Homo sapiens: one gene and its partner. The protein of the gene in region 1 purifies or fractionates together with the protein of each later gene. This does not show direct contact. Each region holds a gene or a part of one and is shown in the gene's direction. Other genes may lie near its edges.

Evidence for each region.
Region 2: the proteins of TMEM230 (region 1) and ATP8A2 purify together in Homo sapiens (affinity purification with western blotting, with the first as the bait; one study listed by BioGRID). This does not show direct contact.

The regions. Positions count from the first base shown.
Region 1 is NC_000020.11:5,102,768-5,106,885, reverse strand, and holds part of TMEM230 (transmembrane protein 230), read left to right. Parts: intron 1-575; coding exon 576-698; intron 699-4,118.
Region 2 is NC_000013.11:25,378,474-25,381,973, forward strand, and holds part of ATP8A2 (phospholipid-transporting ATPase IB), read left to right. Parts: intron 1-3,500. UniProt on the Homo sapiens protein: Catalytic component of a P4-ATPase flippase complex which catalyzes the hydrolysis of ATP coupled to the transport of aminophospholipids from the outer to the inner leaflet of various membranes and ensures the maintenance of asymmetric distribution of phospholipids.

The DNA.
Region 1 (4,118 bases):
AAAAATTTAAAAATTAGCTGGGCATGGTGACGTATACTTGTAGTCCCAGCTACTTGAGAGGATGAGGCAAGAGAATTGCTTGAGCCCAGGAGTTCGAGGCTGCAATGAGCTGTAATTGCACCACTGCACTCCAGCCTGGGTGATAGAGCAAGACTCCGTCTCTAAAATCATAAAAATTAGGCCGGGCGCGGTGGCTCACGCCTGTAATGCCAGCACTTTGGGAGGCCGAGGCGGGCGGATCACCTGAGGTCAGGAGTTCAAGCCCAGCCAGGTCAACAAGGTGAAACCCTGTCTCTACTAAAAATACCAAAAAAATTAGCTGGGTGTAGTGGCGGGCACCTGTAACCCCAGCTGCTCAGGAGGCTGAGACAGGAGAATCACTTGAATCCAGGAGGCAGAGGTTGCAGTGAGCCAAGATCACGCCATTGCTCTCTAGCCTGGGCAACAAGAACGAAACTCCATCTCAAAACAAACAAACAAAAACATAAAAATTACAAATAATTAATTAAATGTTTGAACCCAGGTATTTGCATTAATGTTCTTCGTTGTCTTTTTCATCTCTATTTCTCTTCCAGTTTAAGAAAACCCCTCCTAAGATCCCTTATAAGGCCATCGCACTTGCCACTGTGCTGTTTTTGATTGGCGCCTTTCTCATTATTATAGGCTCCCTCCTGCTGTCAGGCTACATCAGCAAAGGGGTAAGCTGACGGGCATGTGGGAATAAGTTGTGAGATTTTTAAAATGTTAGCCAAGGCTCTAGTGTGCGTGTGTGTGTGTGTGTGTGTGTGTGTGTGTGTGTGTGTGTGTTTGTCCGTCCCAGTGGTCTGTTTTTTTTGAGACAGGGTCTTGCTCTGTCATCCAAGCTAGAGTGCAGTGGCACAACCTTTACCTCCCTGGGCTCAAGCGATCCTCTCACCTCAGCCTCCCGAGTAGCTGGGACTACACGTGTGTGCCACCACACCCAGCTAATTTTATTTTTTATTTACTTATTTTTGTTTGTTTTATTTTGTGTAGAGACAGGGTTTCACTATGTTGCCCAGGCTGATCTCTAACTCCTGAGGTCAAGCAGTCTGCCTGCCTCAGCCTTCCAAAGTGCTGGGATTGCAGGTGTGAACCATTGCCCCTGGCCAATTTTTTTTCCAATTTTTATGGGTACATAGTAGGTGTATATACTTAGGGGATACATGAGGTATTTTGATACAGCCATGCATTCATAATAATCACATCAGGCTAAATGGGGTATCCATCCCCTCAAGCATTCATCATTTGTATTACATTCCAATTATACTTTTATTTATTTATTTATTTTGAGACAGAGTCAGGCTGGAGTGCAGTGGCATAATATCGGCTAACTGCAACCTCCGCCTCCCAGGTTCATGCTATTCTTGTGCCTCAGCCTCCCGAGTAGCTGGAATTACAGACGTGCGCCACCGCACCCGGCTAATGTTGGTATTTTTAGTAGAGATGGGGTTTCGCCATGTTGCCCAGGCTGGCCTCCCAAAGTGTTGGGATTACAGGCATGAACCACTGTGCCTGGCCTATTTTTAGTTATATATATACATATACACATACATACATACATACATATATATATATTTTGGAGACAGAGTCTTGTTCTGTCACCCAGGCTGGAGTGCAGTGGCAGGATCTCAGCTCACTGCAAACTCCGGCTCGTGGGTTCAAGTGATTCTCCTGCCTCAGCCTCCTGAGTTAGCTGGGACTATGGTGGCAAGCCAGCACACTTGGCTTATTTTTGTATTTTTAGTAGAGATGGGTTTTTGCCATGTTGGCCAGGCTGGTCATGAACTCCTGACCTCAAGCGGCCTGCCCGCGTGGGCCTCCTAAAGTGCTGGGATTACAGGCGTGAGCTACCACGTCCAGCCTTAGTTATTATATTTTTAAATGTACAATAAATTATTCTCTAGTCACTTTGTGCTATCAAATACTAGAGCTTATTCATTCTATGTAACTATATTTTGTACCCGTTAACCTTCCCCATTCCCCCCTACCTTTCCCAGCCTTTGGTAACCATCATTCTACAATATCCATGAGTTCAATTGTTTTAATTTTTAGTTCCCGCAAATGAGTGAGAACATGGAAAGTGTGTCTTTCTGTGCCTGGCTTAATTTCACTTAACATAACGTTCTCCAGTTTCATCCATGTTGTTGCAAGTGACAGGATCTCATTCTTTTTAGTGGCTGAATAGTACTCCATTGCATATATGTACCATATTTTCTTTATTCACTTGTCTGTTGAAGAACACTTTGGTTGCTTCCAGATCTTGGCTGTTGTGAATAGTGCTGTCATAAATATGGAAGTGCAGATACCTCTTTGATAAACTGATTTCCTTTCTTTTGGGTATATACCTAGCTGTGATTGCTGGATCATATGGTAGTTCTATTTCATACTGTTCTCCATAGTGGCTATACTAATTTACATTCCCATCAACATTGTACGAGGGTTCCCTTTTCTCCACGTCCTCGCTAGCATTCGTTATTGCCGTTTTTTTTGGATAAAAGCCATTTTGGCTGGGTGCAGTGGCTCACGCCTGTAGTCCCAGCACTTTTGGAGGCCGAGGCAGGAGGATCACTTGAGCCCAGGAGTTCGAGACCAGCCTGCGCAACATAGCGAGACCTTGTGTCTATATTTTTTAAAAAGCCATTTTAACTAGGATGAGATGATATCTCATTGTAGTCTTGATTTGCATTTCTTTGATCAATGATGTTAAGCACCTTTTCATATACCTATTTGCCATTTGTATGTCTTCTTTTGAGAAATGCCCATTTTTGATTGGATTATTAGATTTTTTTTCCTACAGAGTTTGAGCTCCTTATATATTCTGGTTATTAATTCCTTGTCAGATGGATACTTTGCATATATTTTTTCCCATTCTGTGGGTTGTCTCTTCCTTTGCTGTACAGAAGCTTTTTAACCGGATGTGATCTCATTTATCTGTTTTTGTTTTGGTTGCTTGTGCTTTTGGGGGCATTACTCAAGAAATCTTTGCCCAGTCCAGCATCCTGGAGAGTTTCCCCCATGTTTTCTTATAGTAGTTTCATAGTTTTAGGTCTTACATTTAAGTGTTTAATCCATTCTCATTTGATTTTTGTATATGTCAAGAGATTTGAGGGGTCTAGTTTCATTCTTCAGCATATGGATATCCAGTTTTCCTAATACCATTTATTGAAAAGACTGGTTCTTTCCCCAGTGTATGTTTTTTTGTTTTTTGGTTTTTTTGTTTGTTTTTTTTTTTTTGAGACAGAATCTCACTGTGTCATCCAGGCTGGAGTGCAGTGGCACCATCTCGGCTCACTGCAACCTCAGCCTCCCAAATAACTGGGACCACAGGCATGTGCCACCACACTTGGTTAATTTTTTTTTCATTTTTTGTATAGATGAGGTTTTGCCGTGTTGCCCAGGCTGATCTCGAACTCCTAGACTCAAGCAGTCCAGGAGTACAGTGGTGTGATCACAGCTCTCTGCAACCTCAATCTTCAGGGCTCAGTCGATCCTCCCACCTCAGCTTCCCAAGTAGCTGGAGTTACAGGTGTGAGTCACCATACCTAGCTAATTTTTTTGTTTGTTTGGTAGAGATGAGATCTCATTATGTTGCCCAGGCTGGTCTTAAACTCCTAGGCTCAAGCAATCCTCCTGCCTCAGCCTCCCAAAGTGCTGGAATTACAGGCTTTAGCCACTGCACCCCTCTGACTATGTTTCCCGTTGTGTGTTAATTATGGTCAGTGTGAGGCCCACCCTAGCCTCCCAAAGTACTGGGATTACAGGCGTGAGCCACCACACCCGGTGGATGTAGAATTTTATCAAATGCTTTTCTAGCATCGATTGAAATAATCATATGGTTTTTGTCCTTCATTCTGCTGATACGATTTTATCACATTGATTGGTTTGTATAAGTTGAACCATCCTTGCCTCTCTGGGATAAATCCCACTTGGTCCTGATGAATGATCTTTTTAATGTATTGTTGAATTCAGTTTGCTAGTATTATCCTCCTTATTGAGGATTTTTGCATCAATGTTCATCAGGGATATTGGCCTATTTTTGTTTTTTCGATGTGTCTTTGCCTAGTTTTGGTATCAGGGTAAAACTGGCCTAGTAGAAT
Region 2 (3,500 bases), on another chromosome or scaffold:
TTATGCCATTTTGATTGGTTTGTTTCAGGTTGCCTGAATTTTTAATACCCCTTTCTTGTCACAGAGAAGAGAACTTTGTTATTTTTGGCTTTCACTGGAGTTCTCACTTCAGAGTTGGTTAGTATGAGTTTCTGCTTTCCAAGCTGACATGTTTTTTTCTTTTTAGCATCTGTTCCATATACAGGGTGAATAGCTACAGGGTTCCAAAACTGCGAGTGAAGCACCTCCTCCACATATTCCTCACTAGCCTGCATAACTGACAGCACTTGGCTGTCTCCGGCCCTGCTGTCCTAGCTACTCTGCAGCTCTGCCCACCTGATACTGCGCCACTGATGGCAGGCAGTGCTGTTGGGAAGAGAGCAAAGGAAGTGAGTCTGGTGCTGTGAGAACAAAGATAATAAAGGTAATTACTAATATGCCTTTAGTGTTTTTCGCATATTTTTCTTACGGATCCTCACACCATCCCTCTGAGAAATATATTATTATTGCCTCCCATTTAAAAATTCTATATGCATATTTGTATACTTTTCTTTTTAAATAAAGGCAGGAGAGAAGAAATACTCCAGATAGGAGAAATATTCTTTTCTTTTCTCCTCTTTTGCAGAGAATGTTAAGGCAGGCTCCTTAATTTTGATTCAGAGGTTTTGCATTCAGAAGTAAGTGTTCCTGTCTTGTGTAATCTTTTGCCAAATCATCAGCAATGTACATTTCACACATTGCAGGGAAGCATTTGGGTGCTCCTCCTCCCTTTTCTATCTCTAGAGATACTGTGTAAGCCAAATGCAGCACCGAGGATCCCAGGATTACTGTAAATATTTTAAGCACATTATGGAGACTGATTATATAGGAAACTGGGGTAAGCAAACTACTCCATGGAGTGAGTGAGTACTTCTCTATACTGACATTTGGAATCTCATTCCAGATATTTAGTTCAAAGACAGTTGCTTTTTTCACGGTCATGATATGTTAATATCGGGGAGCAGTTCATTCATATTCAAAGGAGAGAACAGTGGCCTGGCTGATAATATATTTGGTTACTGCACCATGGGATCAGGCCTCTTATCAGCTATTTTTAGTCACATAATGATTATCCTTGTTTAAGTCTCTTCCATTTTCTTTTTGTTGTCTTTATTCTAATGCATTGAGGAAACATAACATTGGTTTTAAAACTGCAGAATTTTTGTTTTTAACCCTCAGTAGTTACTGTATATGTAGCAAACTAAGTGGTCTTCTGGGACTCGGCGGAGCGGGCCCTGCTAAGCGTGTAAGATAGTGTGCCGTTTCTGCTACGTCCCCTGCCCCAGCGTGCCGTGTCCCCAGGTTACTCTGCTGTCCATTTGTGCTGGAGAGAATAATAGAAATAAACAGTCTTTCTGGGTCCACTCTAAGTTCATTTTCCTGTTGCCCCTTCCTGAAGCTTGGAAATACATTTATTCAACTCGATTGAACTCTTCTACTGTCTGATTTTCTGGTGTTAGAGTTTGGGCAAATTTTCTGGAAGGGAAGACACCAGCGTGGGCAGGCAACTGAGAAGGGTTCTCGGGTAAGAATAAACTGGGCTGGATGCAAACACAGCGATGAGTGAAGATTGTAAATGAAATGCACAGTTAGGGGCTGTTGTAATACTCCAGGTGTAAAATAATGAGGCCTGAACCCATGCAGCATCAGAGAGACGTGCAAGTCATGATGGAAAACAGCTGGGTTGCAATCAAGCCATACAAATGGAAACCAGGGAGATGAGAGATGAGGGAGGAGCTCTCCCTGGTCTTGGGCAAGTAGAATTGTTGAGCTTGTAGCTTGCTTGTCTAATATTTGTCCTTTAGAGAGCCCAAGATACTTTGTACAGAGTAGGCAATACTTTGTAGAGTCAGATTATTGAAGTTGAAGGTGACTTTACAGATCTTTGCCGCGCAGTAGAGTGGCCACTAGCTGCATGTGGCTGAAGAAATGGTGAGTCATGGTTGAGCTGGGCTGTAACGGCAAAATGTGCACTGGATTTCTGAGACTTAGTATGAAAAAGGAAAATAAAACAGTTCATTCATAATGTTTTCTGTTTATTATATATCGAAATAATATTTTGGATATGTGAGATTAAATAAAATATATTATTAAAATTATTTTATGTATCTCTTTGTACTTTTTTAGTGCAGCTGCTAGAAAGTTTAAAATTGTATATGTGGTCTGCATTATATTTCTATTGGTGAACAAATTATAGATCATCTAGTCCAAATATTTTAATTGATTATTTATGGAATTGCAGACTTGCAGAAATAAAATTATCTGACGGTCAACACCCCCATTGCTACACAGGGAAACCAAGGTCATGAAAGGTGAAGTTCCAGGGACTTGTCTGGTCTTCCAAGGGTAGTACCAGTGTGAAAGAACTAAAGCCACGTCTTTGGATTCCCCAAGTATTAAAAAAAATTTGTTTTTCTTCCCTGCCCCCTCCCTCCAGCATTTTTTTCAGGGTTATTTATCTTCCTCTTGAGTCAGTATCTCCCTCGGGCACACTCTAAGATATCCACCTTCAGTTAATTTTGAAAATGAACTGGGTCATGGCACTAGGAAATACCATTATATTTCTTTGAACCTAATCTCTAATAGAATCTGGTTGCTTGCGTCTTTTAGTATGGTCTGATATTATCAGTCAGTATTTATGGAGAGGATCTTCAACACACTCACGATTTATGATTAATCTCACTTTTGACTGCATGATAAATCTTAGTGTCCTACACAACAACCTTCTTGAAGACCAGTGGGCGTCTCAGCAGCAATGTTTTTCTTCTCAGAGACCGGTCATTGATGGGAGTTGAGCACCTTTTAAAGCAATACATTTAAAAATGTGTTCCTGCTACTGCACATTTTCTCCATAACATATTACTTTCTCAAATAAGCATGTTGGAAAAATGGAGGAAGTAAATACAAAAGAGAAGAAGTCTGAATAGATAATGTTCAAATACCATTAGGTTGTGAGTGGCTCTGAGTCCTGCTAGGAAGACAAAGGTAGGTTTTATTACCAGGGGATGCTGCTGGACTTTTAAAATTGTTCAAGACTTTGAGTTTTTAGGCATTTCTTTTAAACTACATTGATGAAATTATGGACTGTGATAATAAACACAGTGATGGCAACCAAGATGATACTATGTGATGATTAGTTGTCTGATAACTTGTATCAGTGTGTGGTTACTTTGATTTCACTCATAATTTGTGAGTCCATATGATGAGAGCTGTGTTGTCTGCAGTCTGTGATATTTTTCAGTGGAGATCTTGGCCTTCTACGCGTGGGTATAGAGTGTGGCTGAAGAGCCCCAGGGTAGGAGAGCTAGTCCAGAGTTCTGAGACCACCCGCCAGGCTCTTCTACGCAGGATGATATGTTGACAAGATATTACAGGGCAATGTCGGCAGTGTTGTGCAGAGGAAGTGGGGATGCCGTCTGTGTAAACATTGTGATGATGTCTGTGTTAACACTATGAATTCAGCACCATAGCGTCACACCATG